2 separate regions of the Homo sapiens genome follow, and region 2 is linked to region 1. A link means that fine-mapping ties the variant in region 1 to the expression of a gene that starts in the linked region. Tissue or cell type: whole blood. Region 1 holds a variant in brackets; the other region holds the start of a gene. All regions are shown on one strand. Distances are from middle to middle.

Evidence for each region. PIP is the estimated chance that this variant, and not a neighbour inherited with it, causes the effect.
Region 2: TCF7L1 starts here. The variant in region 1 is fine-mapped to the expression of TCF7L1 in whole blood (TOPMed, PIP above 0.99).

What each region holds. Positions count from the first base shown.
Region 1 is chr2:85,303,239-85,311,325 of GRCh38, forward strand. TCF7L1 (transcription factor 7 like 1) reads left to right here. Exons shown (of 12, transcript NM_031283.3): 6 at 657-759; 7 at 1,017-1,100; 8 at 2,022-2,165; 9 at 2,968-3,127; 10 at 3,214-3,321; 11 at 4,404-4,479; 12 at 5,791-7,149. The coding sequence ends at 6,224. Among named protein-coding and RNA genes, the nearest start is that of TGOLN2, 21 kb to the right of the region's middle. RefSeq lists enhancers at 2,975-3,475, 6,398-7,281. The variant G/A (reference allele first, on the strand shown) is at 3,976.
Region 2 is chr2:85,129,471-85,137,567 of GRCh38, forward strand. It overlaps TCF7L1 (transcription factor 7 like 1), which reads left to right and starts at 3,922. Exons shown (of 12, transcript NM_031283.3): 1 at 3,922-4,463; 2 at 4,546-4,609; 3 at 4,853-4,980. The coding sequence starts at 4,215. RefSeq lists a silencer at 3,522-3,591 and enhancers at 3,957-4,531, 5,107-5,681, 5,682-6,255.

The sequences.
Region 1 (8,087 bases):
GTTGCCCAGGCTGGTCTCAAACTCCTGGACTCAAGCAGTCAACTCACCTAAGTGCCGGGATTACCGGTGTGCCACCATGCCCAACCTGAACTGGCTTTTTTTTCTTTTTTTTTTTTTTAACTTGCCCACCAGACCTGTCCATTCCAGGGAGCCACTGTCTTTATAGCATTCACACAGAGTTGCCAGGGGAAGGCAAAGCATTTTTGGAGCCCCTCTTTGGAGAAATAACAGTCACTACAAGTTACAGATAATGAGGAAGACACATGTGGAGGAGGAATCCAAAGTTTATTTCTCCATGAATGAGGCGGGCTTTCTAGAGACTTGGTTCACCAGTGACTCTTGTCATTGGTCTTGTGGGTCCTGTCCCTCTCTTCCAGGACGCTGGCTTCTGTATCACAGCCAGCTGGAAGATACTCTTCACAGAGATAGAATCCGTGCAGCTAGAGAGGGGGTGCATTAGTCCTGCCTCCCCTGAATATGTCCTTGACTGACTGGTGAGAGCTGCTAGGGAGTTGACAGAGGGCAAGGACAATGACACAAGCACCTGCTAGGCTCCAGAGCACCAGGGACATAGGGCAGGATGCTCCCATTTGATGTTCGTTAAGGTGCTCTGGCAGGGCGAGGGAACAGTCTGACATATCTCTCTTTGGAAGCAGGAATCCCCCGGCCCCCTCACCCATCCGAGCTGTCACCGTATTACCCACTCTCTCCCGGAGCTGTCGGACAAATCCCCCACCCCCTCGGCTGGCTCGTCCCACAGTAAGGAACCCACAGCCTCTCTTCCCCCTGCTCCCTCCTTGCGCTGAGCTCTGCCTCTGTGCCCTGCGCGCCCTGCACAGTGGAGCCCCCTCAGAGGCAAGCCCAGGACTAGGCCTCCCTGCCCCCGCCCAGGCAGCGTGCTCCCAGCATTACCTTCCCGCTTCCTTCCCATATTTCTCATCCCTTCTTCCCAAGTGCCTCTCTTCCTCTGCCCTGAGCTTTCCCAATATGCTGACCAGATTTCCTCCCCCTCACAGGCAAGGCCAGCCCATGTACTCCCTTCCTCCCGGTGGCTTCCGGCACCCTTACCCCGCCCTCGCCATGAACGCCTCGATGTCCAGGTGAGTCCCGGGGCTGGGGCTGTCCGCATGTTTGTCTTAGCAACCACGCCATTTCTGACCACGAAACAGCTTTTTCTTGCCAGTTAATGAGCAGGCACAGGGCTCACCCTCCCCCCACCTCTCTTTGATCAAGCATCTTCTCACGTCCCGCGCTCCCCACCCCCAGGTCAGAATGGAGACCACAGGATCACTGTCCCCATCTCTCCAACAGAAGGATTGCAAAGCCCTAGCACTCTGCCTCCTGCCATGGGCTCTGGCACTGAAGCATTTTGAGGACAGATGCTCCCCGACTTAGGATGGAGCCGCGTCCTGATAAACCCGTCGTACATTGAAAACACAACTTTCCCCTTAGAATATTTGCAACATATGATGGTTTTATCCAGACATAACCCCATCTAGGTCAAGGAGAGTACTGAATTAATATCGTTTTTGCACCATCGTAAAGTCAAAATATCCTAAGTCACGGACTGTCTGTATATCACACTGAAGCTAGGGACTGGGAGAAGATGAATTTTTCCTGAAATGATGTCAGGAGAGGAGACGGTGAAAGGGGATTTCTGTCTCAGGGACCAGCTCTACCTGACAGTGGAACCTCTGAGGACAGAGGAAAGCTGCCCACAGCCTAAGCCCTTCTTTTCCCCAGTATGCCCGGGCCTCTGACCCTCCTCCCCTTTTGTGTGTTTCATCCCACCTGCTTCCAGCACCAGATGGGCAGCCTGGGTGTTGGTGGGGAGAAGGAAGAGCCATTAAGCATCTCCCAAACCTGGTTTTCTAGAAGACGACAAATAGCCTTCTAGTCCTGAGACTCTGCCCCACGGACATGCCTGTGCCCTTAAGGCAGAGAGCCACCGTGTCCTCTGCTGGGTGGCAGGTATCCAGCCTGAACCCCTCTGTTGCCATTTGTTTCTATCCGGTGCACAGCCTGGTCTCCAGTCGGTTCTCTCCTCACATGGTGGCTCCTGCCCACCCTGGCCTGCCCACCTCAGGGATCCCCCACCCTGCCATCGTCTCCCCCATCGTCAAGCAGGAACCGGCACCCCCCAGCCTGAGCCCTGCAGTGAGCGTGTAAGTAAGCGGCAGCCTGGATTCAGGTGGGAGGGTGCAGGCTGTGGGGAGGGGTGGCCACACTCTGAGCAGCAAATGTCATGTACTCTTCTCTCTTGGTGTCACTCAGCAGGCATCACAGCCTCCCCAGCCAGGCCCTCCCTCTTCCTCGGGACTTACTCCCTCTGACCTTCTGGGTCCCTGTCCTTTCAGGGACATGGTGCATCTTCTCTCTTATTAAGGAAAGTTTTACTGTCAGGTCTCAGAGGCTGAAAGAGAACCTGAGAAAGCTTTTAACACCCCACCGTAAGATATATGAAAAGGTGAGGCCCAGAAAGGAGACAGTGTTTTCTTAAGGACTTGTGGTGGGCTGGTGGCCGAGCTGAGATGAGCACCAGGGTCCTTACCTTGCCCGTGTACCATAAAGATGGCAGGAAGCCAAAGTCAGTGCTCCCTGGAGATCCCAAGAGAACCCCCTCCCAACTTGGTTCTGCCCAGAGTGCCCCACACTGTGTCCTGTCACCGCCGCCAGCACCTGCCAGCTCCAGTGAGAGCTCATCTCAGCAACCCCACCATGCTCTGTTCCTCTGTCAGGAAATTGGAGAGTAGATTTTCAAAGAATCTGGCGTGGAGATCGTTCAAAGGTGGGAAACTACGGGAGGAAGGTACTCAGGTGTTGAGTGCAGCCATGGGGCCACTTGAATTAGCATCCAGGCAGCCCGCGCCCCTCCCCAGAGACAATCAGCGGTGTTTCAGTGACAGGTGGGGATTGATGAGTTGTGTGACACCTGACATGCTAACCTACAACCACGTGCCTTCCCAGGAAATCACCAGTCACCGTGAAAAAGGAGGAGGAAAAGAAGCCCCACGTGAAGAAGCCTCTGAATGCCTTCATGTTGTATATGAAGGAGATGAGGGCCAAGGTGGTGGCTGAGTGCACCCTGAAGGAAAGTGCAGCCATTAACCAGATCCTTGGAAGAAAGGTAAGACCTGCCCTCTCCCTCCAGGCCAGGGAGGCAGCGTCCCTGCATTGATGGCTCCGTGTGGTCTCTGACCCTCTCTCCCCCAGTGGCACAACCTGTCTCGAGAAGAACAGGCCAAGTACTACGAGCTGGCCCGGAAGGAGCGGCAGCTTCACTCGCAGCTCTACCCAACCTGGTCAGCCCGGGACAACTATGTAAGTGCACACTCTGGGCAGAGGACGCTCAGACCCCAGGAACAGCCTCTGCAAGAGGAGGAAGGGTGAAGGAAAGCAACTGCATTTATTTTTATTTATTTTATTTTCTTTTATTTTTTGAGACAGAGGCTCACCCTGTCACCCAGGCTGGAGTGCATGCAGTGGCGCGATCTCGGCTCACTGCAAGCTCCGCCTCCCCGGTTCACACCATTCTCCTGTCTCAGCCTCCCGAGTAGCTGGGACTACAGGCACCTGCCACCACACCCGGCTAATTTTTTGTATTTTTAGTAGAGACGGGGTTTCACTGTGTTAACCAGGATGGTCTCGAGCTCCTGACCTCGTGATCCGCCCACCTCGGCCTCCCAAAGCGCTGGGATTACAGGCGTGAGCCACCGCGCCCGGCCAGCGACTGCATTTATAGAGGACTCTTAAGATCAGGGAGAAGCCCATACTTCTCTAGAAATAAGGAAGGTGTTTTAATTCTCAGGAGGTCAACAAGTCCTGAGGACGGACTTCAGTTGATGCATTTCCCTTTGAACTGGACTCTGCCCTCGATTTCATAACACAGGGCACGGGGTTAGCTGTGGTAGGAAGAGTTGTCTCCAGCCACTCCTAACCCAGGGCTCAAAGACCAGTGTGTGAGCCTCAGGGGGC[G/A]TGTCTCTAAGCTCCCGGAAACCAAGCCAATTTTCGCATGCGTGTTCTTCTTTGCTTTTTTTCTGGTAAGAGGACCCACAGTTGCATCAAACTTTCAAAGGGACCTGGGACCCCTCAGAAAAGATCTAGAAGCACTGTTCTAGGGAGAGAAACAGAAAAACAGAGTCTGAAGGGCAGTGGAGGGAGGAGGCCTTCCAAGAAGGCCTGGACACCCGACCTGGAGGGGAAACGCGTTTGTAGGGGAGGAAGGGCTCCCTCTGCCTCCTCACGGGCTCCCACGGCTGTGATCTGAATTATCTCTCCACACTCTCCCTGAGGGATCGAGAGCAGTAAAGGGCAACGTCCTGTCTTCTCTCTGATCTGGGAGCCCCTGAGAAGCCAGCATTCTTCTCTCCCAGCTTACCTCTTCCTTTGGCTGTATTTTCCAGGGTAAGAAAAAGAAGAGGAAGAGAGAAAAGCAGCTGTCCCAGACACAGTCACAGCAGCAAGTCCAGGAGGCAGAGGGTGCGTCTCGGGGCACTGGCCTCTTCTCCTGCTTTTCCTTTTGTCACAGCCACACCTGCCCATGCTGTCTCTAGCTCCCTGATGGGTCAGGGCTTCTGCCTCGGTATTCGCGGGCGGGTATTATTACCCCTTTCTCGAGGTGGCCACTTAAGAGGCTCTGAGATGTGAAGGCATTTTCCCAGGCACTCTGCTTCAGTGGTGGTGGTAGGATTTGATCCCAGGACTTTGTCACTTCAAAGCCTAGACAATCTAATTCCATTGAAAAGTGAATCATCCTACCTGAGGGTTAATGGAATGAGGTTGAAATTGTCTTTGAAATACCCTTAGGAAGGCAGCACATGAGCCCCTGACATCCCACCTGTCAGTGGATCCAGGGGAGCCCGGGTTTCCTTGGATGTTTCTTTGGTTGAACACCAGAAAAAATTAGTTTGCTTGGGTTTAGGAGGCACTTTGTGTCAAAACCATGTATAAAATCTCTATATTACCAGAATCATGCCTAGCACAGAAAGATGCTCACACTGTGACGATTATTATTAATATTTAGGTCACGCCCCCCATCTCATGCTCACTCCAGGACAAGTGTATCGCTGCTTGCACGATGTAAAGTGCTTTCAATCTCTCTTCTTCATTCCTCCCTCCCTCCCTTTCTTCCTCCCTCCCTTTCACCTTCCCTCCCATTCTCCTTCCCTCCCTTTCCCCTTCCCTCCCTCCTTTTCTCCCTCCCTTTCTCTTTCCCTCCCTCTCTTTCCCTCCCTCTCCCCCTCCTTCCCTCCCTTCCCCCCCTCCCTTTCTTCTTCCCTCGCTTTCTCCTTCCGCCCTCCCTTTCTCCTTCCCTCCCTCCCTATTTCCTTGCCTCCCCTCCTCCCTTCCTTCCTTCCTTCCATTATACATAGGAGCGCACATGAGTGGAACCCGTACCTGCTACAGAACCCGCTGTCTGGCACGCTGTTCAGCAGGCATGCACTCTCTCTGACTGTATTAATACCATAAACCAAAGATTTCAAAGCAAACTGGAGATTCATCCCAAAAGTTACCAGCTTTAGGAAAGGAGGGTGGTCCTGTGAGACACTGAGCCGTCTTCTCTCCGATCTGATGCTGGGTGGATCTTCATCAGTTTGGGCGTTGCCTCTTCTCTGTGCTCTGGGTATTTGTGAATGCAGTTTCCTAGTCTTGAAAGCCTTGGAAGTAATGTCAGGTCCTCGCCAAAATCATCCCTGTGTCTCCAAAGCACATGTATCGCCAGGGCTGTTCCTCAGCCTCCTCCTCTCACAGAGCTATAGCTGCTCACTCTTTCTTGTATTTTCCCCCTAGGTGCCCTGGCCTCCAAGAGCAAGAAGCCATGTGTTCAGTACCTGCCCCCCGAGAAGCCCTGTGACAGCCCTGCCTCCTCCCACGGGAGCATGCTGGACTCCCCGGCCACTCCCTCTGCAGCTTTGGCCTCACCAGCTGCCCCTGCTGCCACCCATTCGGAGCAAGCCCAGCCCCTCTCCCTCACCACCAAACCAGAAACCCGGGCCCAGCTGGCTCTCCACTCTGCCGCCTTCCTGTCGGCTAAGGCTGCAGCCTCCTCCTCTGGGCAGATGGGCAGCCAGCCTCCCCTCCTGTCCCGGCCCCTCCCCCTTGGGTCCATGCCCACAGCTCTGCTGGCCTCTCCCCCGTCCTTCCCCGCCACGCTCCATGCCCACCAGGCCCTCCCGGTGCTACAGGCCCAGCCTCTTTCCCTGGTCACCAAGTCTGCCCACTAAGCTCCCCCCGACCCCTGCAGGCTGTCACATGACTCATTGAGTAGTAATGATTCAGAAGAAAAAGAAAAAGGAGACTTTATTGGTCAATATTTGACCACTCTGGACTGTTCTGTAAAGTGGCTGGTAACAACAGCACTTTACAGTTTGTAGATGTAACCAGTAGCTGATCTTAAGGCTTTTTTAAAAAACAAAACAAAACAACAAAAAAAAATCTTTATAAGAAAGAGAACTGAAAAGTAGCGTGCTATTCGTCCTGTAGGTGCTGTGGTGGATGGACCTGGGCAGAGGGCACTTCTCTCTCTTACCTCTCTTGCACTTTCTGTCTCCTGTCTCTTCTCGCCCCTGCCGCCTGCCCCAGCTTCCCCGACTCCATCTGCAGCTCTGCCATTGTGACATTTCCTGTTACCCAGCCCAAGTTTTCATCGTCTGCTCAATACCGTGGGTTCTTCTTCGTCCTCTGTCCTCTGCCCAGTGTGAGGCCATCACCATGTGAGAAGACATCTTGGCCTGATTTGCTGCCACCAGCGTCCCCTCCCTCAGTGGGCCCGAACTCGCCAGCCCCAGCTTTCAGTGGAGAAAGCGGTCCTCTGAAATGGTTTCCTCCCAACCCCCGCATTTAAAGGGACTCAAGGTGCCTGCCACTTCCTCAGCGAAGAAGTCTGTGTTCCTCCCCGTCCTTGCCAGTGGCGATCATCCCTTCACAATCCCAGAGTGGCAGGCGGGACCGGCCCCATGGTCTGGCTCCTGTCACCTGGGTCCGTGCCAGCACAATCTGCCAAAGTTCTAGAGACCCTGTTCCCTTCCCCATCACCTCACATGCTTCTTCTGTGTGTATTTCTTTTTGTTTTTATGGTTTTTGGAGCAATTTAAACTCCCAGTTGTTTATTTTCACAAAAGAAAATAAAATTGCAGTTGCAAGACCTTTTCTGAGTGTTTCTTTAGTGCTTTTGTTGAATCAAACCACCTGTTTGTTTCACTCCCAAACCCTGTGTTAGACTTTCGCAGATATGCAAAGGAAGATTGCCACTTGCCACAGGGGAATGTTAGGCATGCCTGACACCCTTAGAAAACCTGAACCCAGCTTCCTGTCTCAAATGTGCATGGGCCAGTCAGTGTCCATGACTGAGCTGCAAAGGGGGTAATCATTTTCACAGCTGATTTAAATGAATTTGCCGCCTGGAATGACATTCAGCTTATGCTTCTATCACCCATTTGACTCGTAATTGCCAAGATGTGAGGAAGCATCTTTTGGATACTTTCCATAGTATCTAGCACCACAATTAATTTTTTGTAACAGCTTTATGGAGATATACTTCAGCCATTTAAAGTTACACTTCACCCATTTAAAGTATACAGTTCAGCTGGGCAGAGCCGCTCTTGCCTATAATCCCAATGCTTTGAGAGGCTGAGGCAGGAAGATGACTTGAGGCCAGGAGTTCAGGACTAGCCTGGGCAACATAGCAAGACCTGATCTCTTTAAAAAAAAAAAAAAAAGCAACTAGCTGGGGATGGTGGCACACAAGCCTGTAGTCCCAGCTTCTCAGGAGGCTGAGGCAGGAGGATTGCTTGAGCTCAGGAGCTCAAGACTGCAGTGAGTTATGATTGTGCCACTGCATTCCAGCCTTCTCAACAGAGTAAGACTCTGCCTCAAACAAAAAAGGTATACAATTCAGGCTGGGTGCGATGGCTCACACCTGTAATCCTAGCACTTTGGGAGGCCGAGGCGGGTGGATCACCTGAGGTCAGGAGTTCGAGACCAGCCTGGCCAACATGGCGAAACCCCGTCTCTACTAAAAATACAAAAATTAGCCAGGCATGATGGTGCGCACCTGTAATCCCAGCTACTTGGGAGGCTGAGACAGG
Region 2 (8,097 bases), 170 kb before region 1:
GGGTTTCACCGTGTTGACCAGGATGGTCTTGAATTTCTGACCTCAGGTGATCCACCCGCCTCGGCCTCCCAAAGTGCTGGGATTACAGCCGTGAGCCACTGCGCCTGGCCCTTATGATCTTTTTCAACCACTTAAAAATGTAAAAAAAGCGGCCGGGCGACGTGGCTCACACCTGTAAAACCAGCACTTGGGCGGATCACCTGAGGTCAGGAATTCGAGACCAGCCTGGTCAACATGGAGAAACCCCGTCTCTACTAAAAATACAAAATTAGCCGGGCGTGGTGGTGCATGCCTACATTCCCAGCTACTCAGGAGGCTGAAGCAGGAAAATTGCTTGAACTCGGGAGGTGGAGGTTGCAGTGAGCCGAGATGGCACCATTGCACTCCAGTCTGGGCAACAAGAGTGAAACTCCGTCTCAAAAAAAAAAAAAAAAAAGTAAAAAAAAAAAGTCTTAGCTGAGACCATTCAAAAACAGGCAGCAAGCTGTAGTATGCTGCTCTAGATGGTTGTTTTTGGTTTGGCCTCTATGCCTGGTGCTACAAATCACCAAATTCTCTGAGGGGATGAAACAGCAGTGAATACAAACTCGCTTGAATGAATTTCCCTTCTGGTATTTTGACTCCTCACGTCCTGGCTGACTTGGTTGACAGTGATGCCTTCAACTCAGCTGGGTTTTGTTGTTTTATTTTGGTATTTTATCCAGTTTATAGTTAGTTGTTCTTGATGAAGGAGTCAATCTGACATCAATACCCCATTAGAATGGGAAGTGGAAGTCTACATGTTAATTTTAATTTGCTACTTTTGCTTACCATTATGAGCCTCCTTCTATATTGACAAATATATCTCCACAATGTCATAACATTCCATTAGATGAATGCACCATGATTTAACTTAATAATTCCCTATAGGGGACATTGAAATTGTTTCTAGATTTTTTCACTGTGATGAACACACTTCTACAGGTTTATTTTTGTACCTAGTTGTTTCCTTCAGATAAAATCCTAGAAGTACGTGGATAAGTCAAAGGGTTCACACTTTTAAAGGTATTTCACAGGTATTACCAAACTTCTCTTTAGAACTGTTACACAATGGCCCAGCATCTATGTGCTTCTTAGTATAGGGGCCAATGCTGGGTGTTACCATTCTTTTCTTCCTTTGCCAATCTGACAGATGAAAACTGGTTATCTCAATGCTGTTTCCGTTTGCATTTCTGGTTTATAGGTGTGGCAGGCTGATAATGGCTTACTCCCAAAGCTGCATCTATGACCTAATCCCTGGAAACTGTGAATGTTTAAGGAAAAGAGGTCTTTGCAGATATGAAGTTAAGGATTTTGACATGGACAGGTTATCCAGGTGGTCCTTAAATGCTATCACAAGTATCACTTTTTTTTTTTTTTTTTTTTTTTTGAGACAGAGTCTCACTCTGTCGCCAAGGCCGGAGTGCAGTGGTGCCATCTCAGCTCACTGCAACCTCCTCCCTCCAAATTCAAGCGATTCTCCTGCCTCAGCCTCCCAAGTAGCGGGGATTACAGGCGCCTGCCACCACACCTGGCCAATTTTTTGTATTTTTGGTAGAGACAGGGTTTCACCATGTTGGCCAGGCTGGTCTGGAACTCCTGACCTCGTGATCCACCTGCCTTGGTTTCCCAAAGAGCTGGGATTACAGGCGTGAGCCACTGTGCCCGGCCACAAGTATGGTTTCTTACAAGAAGGGGGCAGAGGAAAATTTGTCACAGACAAAAAAAGGAGAAGGCAATGTGATTACAGACGCAAGGGTGGGAGTGATGTGGTCACAAGCCCCCAGAAGCTGCAAGAGACAAGGGTAGATTCTTTTCGGAGCCTCCAGAGGGAGCATGGCCCCGTCAACACCTCCATTTCTACTCAGTGAAACTGACAGTGGACTTCTGTCTTCCACAACTATGAGAGGATAAACTTCTGTTGTTTTAAGCCACCAAGTTTTCGTGATTTGTGACAGTAGCAGCAGAAAACTAGTACAATAGGTTTTTCATATATTTATGGACCATAAACATGAAAAATCGTCTGACTTTTAAATCTTATAAAAATAAAATAACACACAATAATACAAAGAGTATGATTCTATGTATGTACATCAGAATATCTGTAAATACGTTTACATATGTTCATAACTGCCTAGGAAAGTGTCTGGAAGGATATATACCAAACTAGTGACAGTGGTTAACCAGAGGCAGTTAACTGAAAGTGGTTAATTAGAAGGGTCCTGTGTCCTGAGGGGGAAAGAGGAACTTTTACTTGTTACTCGATACTGCTCAAGATACATCTGTTATTTGAAAACGCTTTATGAGACTGTACTCATGTATTGTGTAAAAAATTAGAAAAGGCATATCTGCTTGTTATAAAGTTCATAGAAACCAGAAAACTATCTCCTTTCACTTATCCTTTCCCAGAAATAGTCATTGATAATAATTTGCATCTTCTCAGATTTTTTTCTACGCAGAAATAAATGTGTATAATTTTTTTAAAAACAAAAATAAAATAGTGAGTGTCATATATAGTGTTTCATTTAAAGATGTTCCTCCAAAATCAATCTTGGTCCATGTGCCTGTGTGTGTGTGTGTGTGTGTGTGTGTGTGTGTGTGTGTGTGTGTGTGTATGGGTGGGGGGAGGGGCGGGGACACTGCATAGAACTGGCCAGCTGCATGGACTGTCACTGTAAAGAAAGATGAAGAATGCATGTCACCAAGCTCTCTGATGCTTTGAACCTAGCATATGTGGCTTTGCCCATATGTGCGGGCACCTCTGTAGAAACTCTTCTGCCAGTTGGGCTGAAAATAGTTTTACATAGTTCCATACTGCCTTCCAAGCTGTTTTCAAAGTTTATGCTCTAATAGTTCCCCACGGAGGATAACACAAGATATTCATTTTCCTCAAACTTTCCCGCACAGGTTGGAGAGAAACGACATCTTAATGTCATTGTAACAGGCATTTCTTTATTAAAAAAATTTTTTTTTTGGAGACAAGGTCTTGCTATGTTGCCCAGGCTGGTCTCAAACTCCTGGGCTCCAGCGATCCTCCTGCCTAGGCCTCGGGAGTAGATGGAACTCCAGGCGCGGGCCGTGGCGCTCGCACCACAGGCATTACTTAGGTATGAGGCTGGTTGAGCATTTTTCTCGTGTTCACTGGCTACTCACGCAGCTTTGTGAATGGCTTCGGAGATCACTGGACAGGCAATTTTCCCTCTCAATGAACCAAATCCAAATTCTTTTGGAACCCAAGACCGCGATTTTTCGATTTAGGACCTAGTCCCAAACAATGAAGAAAAGGTGATCTTCAAGATTTCAGCAGGGAAATCTGTATATCTGTACAAGGTTGAAAACCTGGGCCGGGGGTCGCGTTGGAACCCCACAGGAAAAAGGCGCGGAAAGCCGCCGGGCATTTTCCGGGGTTCCATAGATGTCCCCAGTGTCCTAGTCCGTGCATCAGCTCGCGCACTCGGAGGGACTCTAGGCAGGGGGAGGGCCCCGCGGCCAGTATGTGCGTCCGAGGCTTTCCCGCAGGGGGCAGTGCCGCCCGCCCGCGCGCCGATACGGTGGGAGGGGGTGGGAACCTGCGCGGAGTTCTGGAGGTTCTTTGGGAGAAAGTTAGGGGATGCGGAGGGGTGGGCGCAAGACTTCCAGGACTCCAGGGAGGCCGTGGGGAGGGCCGCCGAGGGTGCAGTGTGAGGCGCAGGAGGGGGTTGGGGGCGGTGCACGTTGCAGGGAGACGCAGCCCCTGGAAGATGCGAGTGTGAACGTGTGAGTGTGAGTGCGTGTGTATGTGTGTGTGTGCGCGCGCACCGCAGCTCTCCGGGTTCCGCGAGGCGCGCGGGTGTCAGCTTGCAGCCGGGGCTCCTCCCTCCGGCCCCCCTGCCCAGCCCGGCGGTCCCTCCTCCCTCCCTCCCCGCTCGCCCCTCCCCGGCGGGCCAGGGGCTGGGACGCCCCGGCGGAGCAGGCGGCGGCGGTGGCGAGTTGGGGAGCCCTAGGCTCGGCGCTGCCGGAGGGGCCCGAGCCGAGCCGCCTGCGCCCCGGCCGGGCAGCGCCGGGCCCGCTTCCCGCGGGGCCACGCCCTGTCAAACTTTGTTGCGGCGGCTAGCGCAGCGGGCCCGCAAGCGGGCGGGAGGGGCGCCGGGCCGGGCCGGGCAGGGCGCGGGCGGCTAGGGGCTCCGAGAGCGGCGGCCCCGGCCCGCGGCCCCACCATGCCCCAGCTCGGCGGCGGGGGCGGCGGCGGCGGCGGCGGCAGCGGGGGAGGCGGCGGCTCCAGCGCCGGGGCGGCCGGCGGAGGGGACGACCTCGGGGCGAACGACGAGCTGATCCCCTTCCAGGACGAGGGGGGCGAGGAGCAGGAGCCGAGCAGCGATAGCGCCTCGGCGCAGCGGGACCTAGACGAGGTCAAGTCGTCCCTGGTCAACGAGTCGGAGAACCAGAGCAGCAGCTCGGACTCGGAGGTAAGGAAGCACCGCGGCCACCCCCGGGGGATCCCGGCCCTGCGTCCGCTCACCCGCTCTTGCCTTTGTGTCTCCTCCGCAGGCGGAGAGGCGCCCGCAGCCCGTCCGGGACACTTTCCAGAAGCCGCGGGACTATTTCGCCGAAGGTATGTGCCCGCTGGGACAGCCCCCCACTCTCGATTCCCGCTGCGCTCCGCTGCTCAGCCCGGGCGGCCCACCGTCCCCCTTGCTTGGGTGGACGCACCCTTGCCCTCCGCCTTTATTGGCGGCAGCCCCCGTGGGGCGCGCGTGGGGGGCGCTGGGGTCCCCAGCTCCCGCCTCGAGCCCCCTGCCGCGGCGCTGTCAGTCCCGGGGGCCTGGGCCTCACCTCGCCTTGGTCTTGTTCGCAGTGAGAAGGCCTCAGGACAGCGCGTTCTTTAAAGGACCCCCGTACCCTGGGTACCCCTTCCTGATGATCCCGGACCTGAGCAGCCCGTACCTCTCCAACGGACCCCTGTCTCCCGGAGGAGCGCGCACCGTGAGTGCCCGTCGGGCGCGCCGGGGAGGGTGGGAGGCCGCGGCCCGCAGGATGCGCCCCCGGGCTTGGCCATGGAGTGGGGGATGGGGCCTTCTGCGCCGATCCCAAGCAGAACTTGTTTGCGGAGTTGAACTACTCTCTGGCGGCCGAGCGCGAGGCTGCGCTGGCCAGTGCCTGGATGAAAGTAAAGTTACTTTAACTTTTCCCCTCTTGCGGGTTGAGGTTTTGGAGTCCACCTCTGGGATCTTCCTTGGCCTCCAGAATTCTTCGCCTGCACCGAAGGAAACTTGGATTTGTGCCCGCTTTGGGGGGGTCTCGCTTTCCTTCTTGGAAATCGGTCAGCTTTCTCTGGCAGTGGGGCAAGGGGCCTAGGGAGCTGGGTTGGCGACGTTGTCCTCCGACTCCGGGTTCACTGGGCGGCTGCAGGCTGGTTCCTAAGAAACCCAGTTTTCGTGGCGGGTTATTCACAGCCCCCGTTCCCACCCCCAGCCCTCGCACCGGGGCCTCAGCTTTTCTGCGGAGCTAGCTCCGAATTTTAAACTCGCGTAGATGATTTCGAGGCGACCCAAGGCATTCTTCAAGTTGAGGAACTTGGCTTTTTCCCCCTTTTGTCGCCTGCTTTTCTCATTTAAAGCGAGCGCTGCGACACTTTAAACCTGTTAATGGGCGCGTATTGTGTGCTGCCCGCTGGCATTTAGAGCGGTGATTAAGCAAATTGACCGGGCCCCAGACGACGTGCAAATGAGGGCGGATTCCTTCGCCCCCTCTCTCTGGCTCTAAACTCCCGCCCCCCGCGTTGCGAGGGGCGCAGCTGGGGGCTGGCGAGGCCTTTGTGTCCCCCAAGCCGCCACTCCACCCCTAGGCTCCCTGCCCAGGTGCTGGGTCCGATGACAGATGTTGGGTGAACGCCTACCTACTGTGTGCCAGGTTCCCGCGTGCTGCTGCTTGGGCGCGATGTGAATCGTAGTAGTTCTTTGCTTCCCGCCCAGATTCCCATTGCCTGCCACTTCGCTGTCGACGGTGGGTAAGGGGGCAGGGAGTGTTAGCCTCTTAGGAGCAGGGTCCCAGCAACACACTTTATGCTAAGACTGCCCTAAAATAACGACGATAATTAAAGGGTGCTAGAGAAAGGCTAGGTGCTGAATGGCCATTCCTGCTGTCATTGTACAGCGGTCGGTGGAGAGCCAAGTCCTCCACATTTGGTTCAGCGGGGGCGCTACCATCACCAGATGGGTTGGAGGGGGATTGACGGGGGGCGGTGGAAGAGACTCTGACTGAGAGAGAGGGGAATGGGGAGTGGGACTACACAGACCTCACAGTTTTGCCCCGAGAGGGAGGGAGGTCTTGCAGCTTTGGCCCTGCTGGCCTGGAGCACCCCAGGAAGTCCTGAATGTAAGTGTCAGTTTTGCAGTGAAAACTGGATGTGGGTCTATGGCTGTTGCTTTTTCTCATTAAAAGAAAAGAGGTGCGTGCCAATCAAAGGGGGGGGGGGATCAACGAGCTGCTGCGGTCTTATTTAGGTTTTCAGTGATTCCCACCAGTGCCCACACATGTAGCTTAGTTCTGCAAGTTTTGTTGGGATTCGTGTAACTTTGCGTATGGGGGAGAGTTAATGCCGCTAAAGTCTCAGGTTTCCATTTACTATTAGGATATCTAGAGAGAGGGGTCTGGGAGGCACTAGCATCTGTGCATCAGCCCTCAGCCAAGTCCTGATGCAGTTAAAGTCACCAGAAATGACTATTTCACCATCAAATATGACTATGGCTCCCTCAAGGCTATTTCTCCATGCACCCATTTCTCTTTAGGGCATTTTGATTCATCCAGGCTCTGCTGTCTGCTCTCTCTGACAGTCCAAGTGAGACAGATTTTTGTTAGTGTCCCCTCCTTCCTTCCTTCTATCACATTATGTGTTCTTTCGCCTAAGAACTTCCAAAGGCTGATTCTTGCTGATCCTGGAGATTCCTGATTACTAAATCCAGGCCCGTGTGGGATTTTGGAGCCCCTCCTTGAGGCAGCCAACCTTTCGTCTCTGCATGCCTCTCTGACTGTCCTTGTTCATCTCTGCAGTTGTTCCCTGCCCTGGCCCAGGCACCAGCCTCCTTTCAAGCCTCCTAGGACATGTACTTTCTTGGGGACTTAGTATGTCCCATCCCACCCCCATACCTACATCTTGTCTCCCTGGTGACTTGCCCTTACAGAAGTTAGTTCAGTTCCCAGTGTTTCTGTGTCTCTGTGTGCCTTTCGCTGTGTTAGTTCACGGATATACTGGGGAAGTGTCCTGCCCTTAGGTCAGCACAGTTAAACCTAATTTGACCCTGTTCGTTTGCTGCCAGTAAGTAAAGCAAGTGAGGAAACACTTAAGCACTTGGTTGTCTGGACTATAGGGTGGAGATGATGGTTTTCTGCTGAACGATTCTATTAATATAATTAAGATAATTGTCACTGTAGGCAAATGGTAGGTACAGACAAAGTGGCCCTCTGTTGGTTTCCCAGCCTGGTAAAATGAATGTGGATAGATACGAGTGGGGAGGGAGGAGGGAGGAAAGTGCCTGGGATATATGATCCGATCTCTCTGACATCTTAGGTCTTTTTTATTGTTTGGCCTCTAAACTGCACCACTTTAGGCTTTGCTGCTCTAAGGCCTAGAGGTAGTATAAAATTAGGTGACCCCAGTTATCTGCTGCTCTAACACTTCCTCTGGAAATACCAAGCCAGATGCAGAAGTGGGAATTGTCTGGATTGTTTTCAGGGTGTTAATGAACCCTAGGAATAGCAGGCAGGAGGCTTCAGCAGCCTCACCCACTGGCATAATTCCTGCTGAGACCACTGGGGGCTGGCCCATCCTACAGTCTGGCCATCTCTCCCCATGAGCCATCACCCTTGCCCTCCACTCTGGTTTGGCTGGGATGCTGGGAAGTGGCTTTTTCCTGAGGCTCTTTAGAGAAGAGGTCCCCTCAGCATGGGATGTGGGCCAAGTCTCTGTGAGCTGCAATTGCTTCTTGTCTGGAGGCCCTGGGACCCTGTGAAGAGAGGAATAACTGCCACAAACCATTTTTCAAATAATCACCTCAAAATTATACATTCATTTCTGAAAAGGCTTCACGGTTTACTAAACTA